Linked DNA regions of Homo sapiens: region 2 is linked to region 1. A link means that fine-mapping ties the variant in region 1 to the expression of a gene that starts in the linked region. Tissue or cell type: esophagus muscle. Region 1 holds a variant in brackets; the other region holds the start of a gene. All regions are shown on one strand. Distances are from middle to middle.

The links. PIP is the estimated chance that this variant, and not a neighbour inherited with it, causes the effect.
Region 2: NUDT2 starts here. The variant in region 1 is fine-mapped to the expression of NUDT2 in esophagus muscle (GTEx, PIP 0.96).

What each region holds. Positions count from the first base shown.
Region 1 is chr9:34,576,549-34,584,652 of GRCh38, forward strand. It overlaps CNTFR (ciliary neurotrophic factor receptor), which reads right to left. Exons shown (of 10, transcript NM_147164.3): 2 at 4,547-4,657. CNTFR-AS1 (CNTFR antisense RNA 1) reads left to right here. Exons shown (of 2, transcript NR_024369.1): 2 at 5,787-6,524. Among named protein-coding and RNA genes, the nearest start is that of CNTFR, 9.1 kb to the right of the region's middle. RefSeq lists an enhancer at 2,013-2,987. The variant C/T (reference allele first, on the strand shown) is at 3,567.
Region 2 is chr9:34,326,131-34,334,234 of GRCh38, forward strand. It overlaps NUDT2 (nudix hydrolase 2), which reads left to right and starts at 3,439. Exons shown (of 5, transcript NM_001161.5): 1 at 3,439-3,469. It overlaps KIF24 (kinesin family member 24), which reads right to left and starts at 3,138. Exons shown (of 13, transcript NM_194313.4): 1 at 2,976-3,138. RefSeq lists enhancers at 2,805-2,864, 2,965-3,064, 3,152-3,659, 3,195-3,384.

The sequences.
Region 1 (8,104 bases):
GGAAAGAAAAGGAAAGGAAATACTTCGTTGGTCCCTAAAAAGTGAGAAAATAAATGATTATTCCCCAGGCAGCTCCTTCTTCCCCAAACCCTGCTTTCAACAGCATTAGGGAATGAAGGGAGATCCATTCCAGACAGGAGAGGTGAAGGAAGTACCTGGGGGAGACAGATGGTGGCACTGGAATCAGCAAGAGCCAGAAAGGCCCAGAAATCAGCCGACTTCCCAGGCCCTTGCTGCCTTCCCTCATCACCCTCTCTTCCCCACGATGCGGATCGGCAGCAGCTCTCAGCCTAGCTATCTGCTGTGTGATCCCAAGGCCTCTTCAAAACCTCTATGTGCCCATAACTGTCTAGCGGGCACCCAGATGTCTGGCCTGGCTGCAGAAAGGGCAGGAGAAGGGAAGGAGATGAGACCTCCACTCCAGCCCCCCAGCCCCCACCAAAGCCCTGGCATCACTGTCAGCCCACAGAGAGGTAGGGCAGATGCCCAGCAGCAGGAGGGGAGCAGGCAGAGCCAGCGGTGCTCCTCTAACTAACCACTGAGGAGGAGAGTCCTAAGGTGTCCTTGGACCCTGCAGCCCCGCCCCCATCACTGGAGGAGTAGACGCGGAGTCGCTGTCCAGTCAGAATGGAATCCAGGCTGTGCTGGCCAGGCCCCAGCCCAGGAAAGATCGGCAATGCTGCAGACATCCTTGCCACTTGCCACTCCAGGTGTAGCTGGGGCCCTGATGCCTCCATCCTAAAAGGAGCCTGACGTGACTCCACGGAAGACAGGCAGGACCTAAGGAAACCAGGCAGGGGTAATGCCATAAAGCCAGGTGATAGGGACTTCGGGGAAGGGGGCAGTGGGGACAAAAGAAACCAGGCAGCAGGGTGTAAGGAAACCAGGTGACAGGGCCCCAAAGAAGGTAGGTGGTGGGAGCCAAATGAAATCAGGCAGTGGGGACTAAAGTTAGCTAGGAGGTGTGGACAAATGAAGCCAGGCTTTGGGGATCAAATGAAACCAGGCAAGAGGCCCACAGGATGTGAGAAAAGAAAGATATCAGGAGCTCATCCCCTCTGTCTAGATGTCACCCCCACACGCTGGGCCTCTCTCTCTGTAGCCCCCCTTCCACTCAGGCGGTGGTCCCCTCCCCCAGGCCAATGGACACAGCCAGAGCCCCCTCCCCTCTCAGAGGCCTGGTCCGATTGCAGCCAATGGGCCCCGGCCCCATCCCTGGGACCTCAGGAAGTCCCAGTCCCTCCCACCGGCTGCAGAGGCAGGGGGGCTGGGGGGAGAGACAGAGAAGAGAAAAGAAGAGAGACAGCTTGGCAGGGGGAGCGCGCCGAGCAGCCGCGGGGGGCGGAGGCCGAGAAAGGAGCGGGAAGCGCCGAGGCGGGCTGGGCGGGCTGGCGGGCGGGCGAGCGCGGGGCGGGGGCGTCGCGGCGGCGGGGGTGACAAGTCCTCCGGCCCTGTGGCCACTGACCTGGGTCCCCACGCAGGCGCCCCGTCGGTGCCTCCGGCGCTCCGTGGGTCCGCCTGCCCGCCTGCGGGCATCGGGTCTGCGGGGCTGGGGCCCGGGCAGCCGGAACGACCCGGGAGGCAGAAGCAACCCCCACAGCGGTCCCGGCGGGCGGGTGGGCGAGGGGCCGGGCCGCGCGGTGAGCGACGAGGGCCGAGCCCCGAGTGAGCGACCGGGCAAGCGGGCCGGGAGGAGGGGAGGAAGGAGCGCGCTGCAAGCGAACGAGCAAGCGAGCAAGCGAGCTAGCGGAGGGAGAGTGAGGGACGGCATGCAGTGAGGTCATCCTTTGAATCTAATTGTCTGAGTCAGGAGGAGATGTGGCACTTGATGCTGGGGGAGGGGAGGCAGAAGGGACCCTCCCCGCTCCGGTCCCGGCCCCTCTCCACACCCAGGGGTGGCCGGGGCCTCCTTTCCCCTCCCAAGGAGAAGTTGCCGCAGGCCAACTCGGGCAGACCACTGCTGGTCTCAGGGCTGACCTCTGCTGCCTGGGGCTATCAGCAAGTGGTGAGAGATGTGGGACCCGGCCCCAGCTCCCGGCTACCTTCCTCCTCCCGGGGTGACCGCCACACCTCAAGGCCCAGCTCACTTTCCCACATTTTTTAGGGCACGGGAGGCTCCCAGCCTACCCCCAGGTCCTATTCCAGGTCCTATTCTGCCCTGTGAGGATAAAGCAGGAACTTCAGCCAGCCTTCCAAGTTGCCTTACTTTAGGAGCACGGGGCCCCAACTCTATTCCCCAAGTTACTTCCAGTGCTGGGAATTTGGGGGAATCTGGAAACTGAACCCCAGGCTCACCATCCTGCCCTCTGGGAATGACAGTGCAATGCCACCCGTCCTCCAGTTACTTTCTGCATTTGGGATGAGGACCCCAGATCCGCCTTTAGGAGGGACAGGAGCAGGGCCAGACTCCTAGGGTCTCCAGGGAGGGACCAGGCTGCCCAGAGGGTGACGGACAGGTTGGTCACTGGACCCTGGGCTTGTCAGGTGTGCACACCCGTACACATATACATGAGCACACGCACACGCACACGTGCAAATGCACATCCGCATGGGGTCGGGGGCACCAGACAGCTGGGGATACTCACACCAAGGGCCATACCCTCCTCCCTTCGCCCCTGTGGGGGAGGGGTGATAAATATTTAAGGGGCTTTTAGCTCAAAAGGGGCTGGAACGGGGGAGGGAGGGGGATCCACGCTGCCTGATTAATGGGGTTACGGGCTTGGATCAATCCGTCCGCCCGCCGCTCCCTCCTCCCCCTCCTCCCTCCCTCCGCCTAATGCGCTTTATCAGGAGACGCTTTTCTGACTTGGCAGCGTTGGGCGTTTTAAATAGACCCATTTAGAGCTGGGGTTGGGGGAGAAGGAGGGGGGTGGAGAGACAGAGATTGAGACAGGCTGGGAGACAGAGACAAATCAGGAAAGAGAGATGGGCCCTAGAAGAGAGAGACTGGGAGAGGAGAGACAGAAGGAAATGCAGAGATACCATTGAGATAAGACACTGAGGGCGAGGCTCCCACGGAGGCTGAGATGGACAGAGAGAGGGTGATGGAGAGAGAGAGGGTGATGGGAGGCCAAAGGAAGCTGGGGGGCTGAGGAGCAGAAACAAACAAACAAAAAGAGACAGGGAGGAAAGGAACCATGGGCAGCAGGGAGAAGCCCAGAGAGAGGCTCTCTGCAAGGGCTGAGTGCTAGCCTGGGAGACAGCAGATATTCTTTATTTCCAAAAACCGTTTTTCATCCACTTTGTTAAATTAAAAAGCTGTTTTTAAAGTGGTGCTGGAGGTGCTGCTGGGGGAGGGTGAACAGAACTGCCAAGTCCTCCCTCTCTGGCCTCCTCCTCCTTGGCCCCCACAGAAGCTGCCTCAGCCTGAGCCCCTGGGGTGTTCTCCAGCTCCCCTGCTCGCTGAGGCAATCCTCTGAGATCCCCAGGAAGAGGGTCAGGGCATCTGAGCTACTGTTCACTGGCAGGAAGTCCTTCCTGCTGTCTGGCCTCAGTTCTTCTTGCTGCAGGGAGCCCATTCTTTCCCCGACCACTATCCTTCTCTTCTCCAGCTCCTGTCCCGGCTC[C/T]CTAAGGTGTTCCCAGTTTGCGGAGGATTACGTGCCCTCTCAGCCCAGTAGCACACTTTCCAAATAAGCCATCAGACTCCTCCCAAGGTACCCCCCATAAATATTATCTTTTATTCTGTAAATCCATCTCCTAGCCCCATCCTAGTCTGAACTTCTATCAGATACACACCCCATGTCCTTGGGTCCTCTGGGAACAGTGGGGTGAAAAGCTTAACTCTCTACAGCCTTCTCAGGCCTCCCTTCCTCCTCTCCTGGGCCCCAGCTCCATCTTAAGCCCCTTTTATGTGTCAGCCTGGGGTACCCCACTCCACCCTCAACAACAACCTGGTCCTAGTTGTGAAGGGTTAGTCCCCCCTCAGCCCCCAGCCGGGAAAATGGCCAGTCTGTTTGGGAGCTGAGATGAAAAGCCCGGCCGGCCTTTGTGGGCCTCTGGCGGGTTTTGGACAATAGGCCCTTCCGTTCCGCTCCAGTGCCTCGATGCCTTGGATGCCCCCACCCCCAAGCTGCCAATCCAGGGGCCTTGCCTGGCCTGAATGAGAGACAGGGAGAGTCAGGCTCGGCCCCACAGCTGGCCTCAGAAGATTCTGGACTTTCTGACCTGCCATCCCATCTTTTTAAAGCCTAGCTGCTCCTCCAATCAAATAAGAGAGATGTCTGGGGGGCAGAGAGGAAATCTGAGGATACTGAAACAGAAACATACTCCCATATCTGGGACTCAGCACCCCCTTAGTATAGAACCCAGTTTCCTAACCTGGTGTTGCCCTTGCCTGTGTGACCACAGGTAAGTCTCTTCCCTTTCTATTTGAGAGCATGAAAAGCCTCAGCCAGGCTGAGCCCAAAACCTCTGGAAAAAGAAAGGACAGGGGAAGAGAGGAAGGAATCTCAGGTCCTCCTCCACTCATGTCCCCTAGACGTACAGCCCCACTACACCTGCCTGATTCCCTGAGATTGATCTGCCCCACGTGGGCCCCAGCACCTACCTCTTCACCACTGGCCACACACCAAGCACATCAATGTCCTCCTCCTCCTCCAGACCAACTCTTCAGGACTTCCAAAACCAAGGGGGCAAGATGAGGTGACAAGGCTAGAGTCTAGAAGGGCAAAGGGCACAAATCAGAGGTCACAGAGGAGCCACAGGCCTTAGTCCAACTCAGAGGCCATTCCATACTCACAGCCCCACTGTGAGAAGGGGAGACTGAGGCAGGCAGCAGCTAAACGTCTGGAAGAAGAAAAGTTGAGAGTAATACAGACCCCTCCCAGCACCCCTTGCTGACTTCAGGTTCTGAACCACAGGGACAAAGGTTGCCAGAAGGCAGTGGCCTGATACAATACACAGATACACACCCACAGACAATCCACAATTCTTATACAATCAGTTTGCAGACACACAGGCACCTCCATATCACATGCATCCTCACATGCACAATCCTAGAGGCACAGGGTCACAGGCACGGTGTAAATAACCACCATCGTAACACCCCCTTCCTTATCACCACTATGATTTATTGAGCATCTATTATATGCCAGGAACTGTGTTTGGCACTTTATATGCATTATCTTACTTAATCTTCATGATTTCTCCATGAGGTAGGTTTTATTGTTCTTCACATTTGATAACCAAGGAGATTGAGCTTCAAGGAGGCCTTGCCCAATACCACAGAGCTGATCAGTTCCAGAGTCTAGATTTGAGTCCGTATCTAGTTCCAAAACCTTGCTGCTATACCAATTTGCCTGTGCAGGTCTCTCACCCACCTGCACAATGTCTTTCCCAAGAATAATAACAGCAGGTATCACTTGTTCAGGGTCCTTGGTTACCCAGACACTGTGATAAGTACTTAATTTACATTTTGGTACTGAATCATCAAAACAAGCTTCAAGGCCAGGCATGGTGGCTCACACCTGTAATCCCAGCACTTTGGGAGGCTGAAGCAGGTGGATCACCTGAGCTTAGGAGTTCCAGACTAGCCTGGGCAACATAGTGAAACCCCATCTCTACCAAAAATACAAAAAATTAGCCAGGCGTGGTGGCATGTGCCTGTGGTTCCAGCTACTCCTGAGGCTGAGGTGGGAGGGTCACTTGAGCGTGGGAGGCGAAGGTTGCACTGAGCCAAGATTGAGCCACTGCACTCTCCAGCCTGGGTGACCAAGTGAAACCCTATGGCAAAAAAAAAAAAAAAAAAAAACACAAGCTTTGGAGGTAATCCTGTTTCTGTTTTACAGATCCTGAAACTGAGGCTCAGAGAGCAGAAGCAGCTTGGCCAAAGTCATACAACTGGTAGTTGGTAAAGGAGCTGGCCTTGAACTCAGGGATATCTTGAAAGCCACTGTTGCTTCTATGGACTCTAGCCATTCAAAAGACCCCTCACCTTCTATAAGACCCCAGGAGATCCTCAGGGTCCAACTGCTCCCTTGAAAACAGGTCCCAGATATATCTGCCAAAGGTATGATTAGGTGCCTAAACACATACCATGAGAAAGGGATTCCATGTCTTCCAATCCTGCCCAGAGATGCAGAGACACCACCACCCAGGGAGAGATAGCCAGAAACTAAAATAAGATGTTAGAGACAGGTGGTTGATAGTGACAGATACAGCCACACCAAGACAGGCTCAAAGGGAGGAAGACTGAGGGGAAGCCAGAGACAGAGAGGGACACATTAGGCCAAAGAATGAGAGAGATAGCTGGAAAAGGAGACAATAGGAGTAGAGGAGGGTACAGGCTGACATGAAAAAACACCGACAGATACACTCCAGTATGCAGACAGACACATATAGACCCATCTGACCTTCACAAGAAACAGACTGTGAAAGCAAGCAAGGCTCAGGCTGTGTGTGGTGTGCGTATGTGTGTGTGCGTATTGTGGGGGGAGCATGCAGAGTCTGTATAGCTACGCACATTACACCAGCTGCTTCCAGCAATTTCATCTGATTAATAATAAATGCCCCATAATTACAGCCGCTCCCCCAGCCCTTCTTCCTGTTTTTTGTCAGCTGCTGCCAGACCAGCCCCCCATAAACCCTATGGTCCCCTCCATCCTCACCTGCTGTCCTCTAGGAGGCTGAGAGAATGTGAGCTGGTGGAGGAGGCCATACTCCCAATTTGAGGAGGGATACCCATCTCCCTATCTTGGATTAATGCCCTTTGCTTCCAAGCAAAAAGTCGTCTTACTTAGGTCTCACTCAGAACTTTTCCACTGCATGGGTATAACCTGTGACCCCTAATATGGCCTAGGGGCCCACATCTGGGATGCAGAGAGATGAAATCCCCTTGCCCACTCTTTATCGCTAGCTGGCTAAGTCTCCATCCACAAACTTTACCTAGCCTCAGAACCCTGTAGGCTCACAGGAGGAAGGCACCAGGACAGGGGTCCTCACCCCATCATTCCAATCCCAGACAGCCCGAATCTCTGCCCACTTGTATACCCTCAAGCTCTGGACACCAGGTGGCTCCGCCTGCCAATTCCTGAGCACCCCCCAACCCCACCCCCACAAGTCCACCTCCTTCCAGGCCTCCCACCCAAGCTCGCCAAGGCAGCTCTATCAGAATCAGCTGCGGGGTTGTGCTGATCTGTTTCTAATCGTTGGGGCCTGGTTCACGCTTGCCCCCAGCCCCCAATATTGATTCCATTATTTGGAAAGTCATTGACGTCAGGGGCCTGGATGGGTGCCAAAACCGCCTTCTCTCCGGGCCTGGGCCAGGGCCCAGCCCCCCATCCCGCAATTTCACGGAGGGGCCCACAAGGGTCAGCTCATGGGCCGAGGTCACATGGCATCTTCCCTCTGACTCTGGGCTCCTCTGCCTTTTTGGAACCACTGTGCAGCTCCCTTCTGGAGAGAGGGGCTACGCAAAGACCTGGGATTTAGAAGTTGGGGGAGGCTATAAAAGGGAGTCTTAAGCCCCTCATTGGGACTCTGGCTGAGAGCAGGGGCTCTGAAGAGGTAAGGAGGAGGGCAGTGGCTCAGAAAAGGGTAGTTGGGAACACTTTGTGTTTTTTGCCACACTCTTATTTTGGAACATCCTGAAGCTGGTCTTGAAATGGATCCTACTGACTACTTGGTTTTTATGTCTGACATCAGTTGTATCTCCAGACTCTCTTAGAAGGAAATTCTCTGCAGTTATTTAGGATAACAGATTACCCTAAATGTTGCCATAATTTGACTAACTGGCACCAGTAATTTTATAAATCTTTGCTCCATATAAAACAAAGGCTCTCTTTCTTGTGCATCTCTCACCTATGCTGCCTCAGTTTCCCCATATTCACACACTCTCCCAGTCTTTCCTGGCGTTGGATGTGTGTTTCTTCCTCTCTGTCTCTATCTGACCAAGATGCAGCCACTGCCACACTGGCCCACGCCAGCAACTCCTGGGCTCTGGCTGGACAGAGTATTTTTAGGATCCGAACCCCGTGTTCTCAGACAGGCATTAATAACCAATACAGACAGTCTGTGGTGCCCACAACAGCTACACAGCCTCAGAGCCCAGCCTTGGAAGGTCAGAGATGGGGTCCATTCCTTCAGCTAGAGGGTCAGAGATGGGGTC
Region 2 (8,104 bases), 250 kb before region 1:
ATTGCTTGAGCCCAGGAGTTTGAGATGAGCCTGGACAACATAGTGAGGCCTTGTCTCTACAAATAAACAAAATTAGCTGGGCATGGTGGTACATGCCTGTGGTCCCAGCTACTTGGGGGGCTGAGGTGGGAGGATTGCTTGGGCCTGGGAGTCAGAGGCTACAGTGAGCCATGATCACACCACTGCAGTTCAGTGTGGGCAACAGGGCGACAGAGTAAGAGCCTGTCTCAAGAAAACCCCCCAAAAAACAGATAAGGTCCCTGCCCTCATGACACTATTATTTTAATGGGAAGAGATAATTAATAATCAATAAGCGGTAGTTTTAGATGATGATAATCACTACCGAAGAATAAAGCCCAGTGCAGGGCTTACTTTACATTGGATGATCAGAGAAGGCTTCATTCAGAAGGGAATATTTGAGGTGAAACCTGAAATAACATGGAGTCACTTATGTAAAAATCAGGAGGAAGAGGGTTCCACGTGAGCACATTAGCCCAAAGGTGGAAATGAGCATGGCAAAATCAAGCCATCAAACACGGACAGGTTGGCTGGCATAGTAGGTGAGAAGGAGAATAGTATGAGAAGAGGAGAGAAAGGTAGGGGCCAGATTATGTAGGGTGTACTGGGCCACATAAAAGTGTCTGAATTTTACTTTTAAGTGAAGTAGGAAGTCATTAGAGGATCTTAAGTGGAGAAAGTATATGCTATGATTCGTCTTCAAAGTTCACTCTCCCAGTTCTGTGAGGAAATGGATCACAGCAGGTGGGCAAAAGTGGAAACAGGGAGATCATTTAGGAAGCTACTGCACTGAACTGACAAAAAAAAATGCTGACTTGGAAAAAATGTTTCCTTTCATGAGGGTTAATTAGAATAATGTAAATTAACTGCTACATTCAGTGTCTGATATATAAACACTCAACAATATATTATACTATTATTATTAGTTTATACCTACAGAAAACTCTTCTTATTCAACACGATATGAACATCAAAACCCTTGAGACAGTAACTTGGGAGGTATACAATGACCATACACTCAAGGTTTAAGAAGTAGAACTCTATTATTTATTTAACAAAATGTGTTGAGGATCTACACTGTGCAAATTATAAACTGGTTTGCTGAGCCAGCATAGGGAAACTGGATTAATATATCAGGCATCATAGAATACTAGATCTGGAAGGGATCTAGAAGAGTTCAGCCCCTCACTTTACGACAAAAGAGCAGCCCAGAGAAAGAAACTGTGGTTCTCCCTAAACTAAAAACTGAGAGGCTCATACCTTAGGTTGCCCCAAGGACACACTCTGAATAACTAAAGATTTTCATTAACAATATAAAACCACAAATTTTAAATAAAATGCTATCTTAGCAGTAATGTGCTACACTAAGAAAAATGTAATATGCATATAAAGCCCTGGATACAGTGCTTTGTACGGGGTGAACACTCAATAAATGGTAACTACTACTTTCAGCAGCTAAAAAAAAAGTCTGTATGGTCTTTGGAAGGCTGAGAGTGTGTGGTCTACCTGACATCAACTACTTGACTTGAGAGTAGAGCCACAGGAATTTTAATCTAATTCAATTCTTTGATTTTCCAGATGGAAAAAATGAGGTCTAAAGGGGCTAGATTCAGGCGTTCAAGGCTGCGGTGAGCTATTATCATGCTAGTGCACTACAGCCTGGGTGACAGAGCAAGACATTTTCTCTAATAAAAAAAAAATAATAATAATAATAAAGGGACTAAATGACTTGCAAAGCCACCCACAGTGAATTAGAGACAGAGACAGAGCCAAAGCCAAACCCACATGTAGTGGGTTTCCACTACATGTCACAGCTATAAGGTAGTGTTTCAAACTTTTATAAAAGGGTAACAAGAACATAGCTGCTGTACTGAACTTTTTCACTCCTTTTATTAAGGCCACCAGTGAGCTATGAATTTGATATAAGGAGCAATCACACCAACAATCAGGCTGTGAATATATAATCCATGAGTTAACAACGAAACAGTCTTAGGAACGCAATTCTATCATAGACACCTGATGAATAGATGGAGTTCACCTGAGCAGCTGTTATATGCACTTCAATAGAGAGACTACAAAGCCTCTCTACTTGTAGAATACAAGTACAAAGAAGATGCTTTAAAACATTTTCCAAAGCACACTTAAAATGTGACAATAGCTGCCGGTCACTAAGAAGCTAAAGGGAGATAAATTATCTTGGCATACAGCAACAGAATGGTTTATTTTAAGCAAAGACTAAAAGGAGTCTAATAAAATTATTGGGAGACCAAGGCTAAAAGCCACAGATGCAGGAAGAGTTGCAGCAACCAATCCAAAAAAGTTTAGCCTTTCACAAAGAGTAGAAAGGCCAGCTGTGGACTGTGTGTGGACTTTTAGGTCCTTTTGCATTGAAGATTAGGGTGGCCTCCCCCTAGCCTCGAAATAAAAAATCGTCTCTGAAGCAGAGAGACAACAAGGCAGGGCATGAAGAGGAATCCAATCTATTTCTTGTAAATTAAATTCAACTCAACAAATATTTCCTGAAAATCTACTATGTGCAAGACATTGTGAACGATGCTTGCCTTACCTCAAAGGCTTCAAAATTTTATGGGAAAAGGGAAGCGAACGGGCTTCCCGGAAGTAAACAACCCAAGGGCGAATAGAAATGCCCTAAAAGAGGTGCCGGTCAGGCTTATCGGTTCAAAAGCAAGAAGGCTTTGGGACTCAAGAGTTTAGTCTCCCAAAGTGAGAGAAGTGGCGTTCAAGATAATTGCTGAAGAAAAGGCAGAGATATGGGGATGAAAGATAGGAAAGTAGGTGAACTTTAGGAAGAGCCAAGAGGGGCCAACTCTCGGTTCCCTCACAACTGCCAGTTTCCTCCCGCGCTCAGCCGACGTCACGCGCACCCGTGTCCGCGGGCAGGCGCCACGGTTCCGGACCAGACCTACCCCTCCTCTATTCTCCCCGCCCTTTCTCACCTCGGTCCAAACTCCTCGGTCTGCCCTGTCTGAGAAGAGGAGAAGACAATGCCGTCGGGAGTGAGCCCCAAAGCCCGCAACCTAACAGTCCCGTCAACCCGGGAGCCACCGGCGGCGGCCAGGCCGCATCTCCATGGCAACGCCGCCAAGCGCCAGTTCGAACGCCCGCGCTGTGGCCCGCGCGTCGCCAGTCCCGCACCGCCCACCAATGGGCATCCAAGGAATCGGTTGACGTTCGTTGACTTCTCCTCTGGAAGACCAATCAGAGGTCTGAAGAAACCGTGGGCGTAACTCTCAATTTCCGACCTTCAGCCAATCGTTCCGCTTGAGGGAAGATCTCGCGACGTTTCAGTGTGAGACGCGCACCTTTGAGGCGGGTCGAAGATCCTTCTGCCGAATTCTATTGATGGGCCCAAGCGTAACCAGGCTCTTCTGATTGGCCGGTGTACTTCAGTTTCCGTCCAAGGTCCGCCTCCTACCTCCTTCTGCTTCGGGTGAGTACCCTTAAGGGCCCACTTGATTTTAGTTCTCAGTGGAGGAAATGAGCCTTGGAGCGATGGGAATCTGCCTCTGGCAAACCTCTGGTCGCTGCAGGGCCCGAGAGGGATGCGCCCTCCTCTAAGTTGGCAGTGAGGTGTGGGCAGGCCAGGTCCCATCCGCTCTCAGGACCTCAGTTTTCCTGTCTGCACCGGGAGAAGGGAGGTTCCCTGACTCTGAGCCTTGCTTGTCCCCGTCGGAGTGGGGATAGGGTGGGTCGTCCAAATCCCAGAGGCGGGAGAGGTCCAGGTTTAGGGCCCAGAGGCCCAGGCGCCGAACCTTCCCCTCCCTGGGCCTCAGTTTCACTTGTTGCTACCCATTAAACCCCGCCTGCTTTCCAAAAGAGATTTTATGTTTTCTAATTGCTTCAGTTATTGAATGGATAATATCGTGGCAGTTATAGCAGAAGTAAAGAAAGTCGAACAAGAGCCCCACCGCCTTAAACAAACAAACAAAAAAGGGACAGCGTAAACAATGCAGGCCGGGTGCGGTGGCTCACGCCTGTAATCCCAGCATTTTGGGAGGCCAAGGCGGGCGGATCACGAGGTCAGGAGATCGAGACCATCCTGGCTAACACGGTGAAACCCCGTCTCTACTAAACAAAATACAAAAGTTAGCCAGGCGTCGTGGCGGGCACGTATAGTCCCTGCTACTCGGGAGGCTGAGGCAGGAGAATGGCATGAACCCAGGAGGCGGAGCTTGCAGTGAGCGGAGGTCGCGCCACTGCACTCCAGCCTGGGCGACAGAGCGAGACTCCGTCTCAAAAACAAAACAAAACAAAAAAAAACTGAATGCAATCAAATTGTCAAATGTAAAACGCTATTATAGAGTTAAGGTTAAGATCATTGATGTTAGGAGTCAGGCAGACCTACATTTGAGTCACTTACCCAGACATCTCTGAGCTATAGTTCCCTTTCTACTCTTCTGAAAAATGGCAGTAATGCCTCAGCGGGTTGTTGTGAAGATTAAGTGAAATAATGAAGGTAAAGCACTTGACACAACGCCTGGCGAGTAGTAACTTCTTAAAAAATGGTAGCGGCCGGGCGCGGTGGCTCACGCCTGTAATCCTAGCCCTTTGGGAGGCCGAGGCGGGCGGATCACGAGGTCAGGAGATCGAGACCATCCTGGCTGACACGGTGAAACCCCGTCTCTACTAAAAACACAAAAAATTAGCCGGGCGTGGTGGCGGGCGCCTGTGGTCCCAGCTACTCGGGAGGCTGAGGCAGGAGAATGGCACGAACCCGGGAGGCGGAGTTTGCAGAGAGCAGAGATCGCACCACTGCACTCCAGCCTGGGCGACAGAGGGAGACTCCGTCTCAAAAAAAAAAAGGTAGCTATTATTCTTATAATAAGAACAGGCAAATACACTAGTCAGTGCGTTGGTGTACTTTTTGTAACTGAGTACCCAATTTTGCCCAAAATTAGTCAGTTAAGGGAAAAAAGGTAATTCTTACTAATAAGGAAACAAATCCATTCTTCAAAAGATAAATTATTTTTCTAGTTTCTATATTAAAAGGAATTTATGCTGTGGGACCTTATAAGGAATATATATACTGTGGTGAACAGTGTTGAGCAGTTTAACAGACAAGATGAAAAGTCATTTCTTTAAAACAGAGAAGCTTTTTGATGATCTTTTATGACACACGGGTAACAGTAACTCATATATTTAGTACCTCTGATAATGTCAGACCCTCTATATATGTCATTTATAAACTCCACAACAACCATGCAAAGTAGGTGTTAACTTCATTTTACAAATGAGGAAGTTAAGTATCTTGCTCTAAGTATCTTGCTCTATTAACTTCAATAGCTAGGCCTTTCTGACTGCATAGACAGCCATGCTTTTCTGTGTTTCTGACTAAAGGAGGATGAAAATGCTTGGAATACCAGACAGATGCAGGGGCAGGTTGGACAGCTTGACTTACCTAAATTGGAGGGAATGTGAGCTGCAGAGGTACCTATGGTAGGAGCAATATCTTGCTCTAATAGAAAATTTTCACCGTGGTCTTGGTAGAGAAGGGAGGAGAAAAAAATTGTTTTAATAAAAATAATTTTAAAAAAGTAAATTCCCACCTTGGGAAATGAAGAGATAGGATGAGATGATCACTGAACTTTAGACCCATCTGTTCATTTATCTTATGGATAGACTATAGCACTTCAAATTCAACTTGTCCCAAACAAATGCTTCACTTGCACCCCCTCCTCCACCCAGGCACTCAAACCAAAGCCTTTCTCTTTCCCTTGGCTTATGAAACATCTCTCTGTCCCTTAGACAATGAAATATCACTATTGTCCATTTTACTTTGAAATATCTCTCAGATTCATCCCTTCCTTTCCTTTCTCACAGCCTCTGCCTTGATCTAACTGGAATCATTTGTTAACTGGTCTGTTGCAATAGACTTGTAACTGGTTAATCTCTCTGCCTCCAATCTGTCCTAATTCGTTCCCCAGCTTGCTTGCAGCTAGAATATCTTTGTAAAATGTCAGTCTGACCAAATTATACCCTTGCCTAAAACCAGTCAGAGGCTTCATTGCCTACAGAATATAAACTAAGCTGTTTACCAATGAGATGTCATTTTGTGCTTGAGGGTGTTGCCCACACTCCTCCCTTTGCTGGCAGTGCCTTGCATCCGCCTCCCTTCTGCCTGGTAAACTAGTGACCCATCAGAATCCTTATGGGGTACCTTGTTAACCTAAAGATGCTTCTTTGCTGCCTTTCCATCTTACGTTGCACAAAACACACTGTAACTTGTCTGTTGGAATGTCTTCCACTTTCACTAGCCTGTAAATCTCTAGGAAGTTGGTGCTTGGTAGTATTCAGCTTCATATCTATCTGTCAATCCTTCACACTGTCTGTCGCATGGGATACGCACAACAGACAAATTCCCCGAGTTAGCTTTCTAGAATTGTACAGCAGATGGCACTAATAGGCTGCTTAACAAATCCCCTTCACTAAGAATGATTTTTGTCCCAACCTTGTCTGACTTTGGCCTTATCCTAGAAGCCAATATTTATGCCATTACAGGTAAAATCTCCTGTTTCCTCCCTCAGCCAATAGCAAAAATAACAAAATGACTCAGCAGCTTCGTCTCTGCAAGAATGGAGTGGCAGATGTCCAGGGAAAGGTGCATTTGAGGGAATATTTTCTTTGTCTCAATTTATTCATGGTAGTTGGGGCTTTTCTTTTGCATTTCTTTCTTTTTTCTTCTCTTCCATTTGTTATTGTTCTTACAAGAAAGAGCTTTACTCATGGGTGGGTGCCTCATTTCTGTCCACTCCAAAAGGGAAGAAAGAAACTGGCAAATTGGAAAAAAGATGATGATGATGTGGGAGGTGAGGGAGTAGTCACATAGAATTGCAGTCACATAGAATTGCTTGTGGGCAGGCAAACAGTTGGCTTTCCTCCTCATCTGGAGGAGGGTCTGGGCAAATTTTCTGGACACTAGTGCCCTAAGTTAAGTGGAACATGTGGTTTTAGGTTCCTACTTCCCAGAAAAGAGCAGAGGAGGCATAGAAACCCTTTTGAGATGGGTGCTATTAGGAGCCTGAGGCTACATTTTACCCCTCCTTCAGAGTCTTCTTCGGATACCAGGATTTAACATCTACGGCCCTCTCCCCCCAACTAAAACCTTTTTGGTGGAAATGATCCCAGCTAGACATCTTAACCTCCAAAGGAATATAGATTAAAGACTGGGAATTTGGGGCCAGGCACAGTAGATTGCACCTGTAATCCCAGCACTTTGGGAGGCCAAAGTGGGAAGGTCACTTAAGGCCAGGAGTTCAAGACTAGCTTGGTCAGCATAGCAAGACCCCATCTCTACAAAAAAAGTGTTTTTTAAATTTAGCCAGATGTGATGGCTCCTGCTTGTAGTCCTAGCTACCCAGGAGGCTAAGACAGGAAAATTCCTTGAGCCCAGAAGGGATGCAGTGAGCTCTTGAGGCTGCAGTGAGCTGTGATCATACCATTGCCCTCCAGTCTGGATGACACAGAGAGACATTGTCAAAAAAAAAAAAAAAAAAAAAAAAAAAAGGACTGGGAATTTTGAAACTGGAAATGATTTTATAAATCTTGTCTGTCCTCTCTCAGGGCCATTTGTGTCCTAAGCCCTACTCTTTCATGGTGAACAGAGCTATGAAAGGGACAAAAATTATAGACTTTGGAGTTAGACTTACTTGGATTGAAATCCCATCCTTTACAGGCCAGCTATGCCCTTATGCAAGTATTTTAACCTTTTGAAATAATATCAGTGTCCTTGTAAATTAGATATAATAATGCTTCTCTTGAAAGGTTGTTTTGAGCTTTAGAAACAATAGTTGTCAAAAGTCTTGCACAGTATAGCTGGCACAGTATATATAGATGCTTAATTGACAACGCGGCATGAAACACTGTTTCTGCTAAAGGGATATTAGAATATGGAGAACAGGTCAGAGGGAAAATTTGGAGAGCTCTTCCTGTACCTAAAGTTACATTTCTGAGGGCTTTTTACAGTTACTCTGATTAATTTGATGAAAATATTGAAACAAACAGCATAGCCATGTATTTGTAAATTCTTTTTTTGGTACCTAGGTCCCGAACCTCCTAGGCTCTGAGG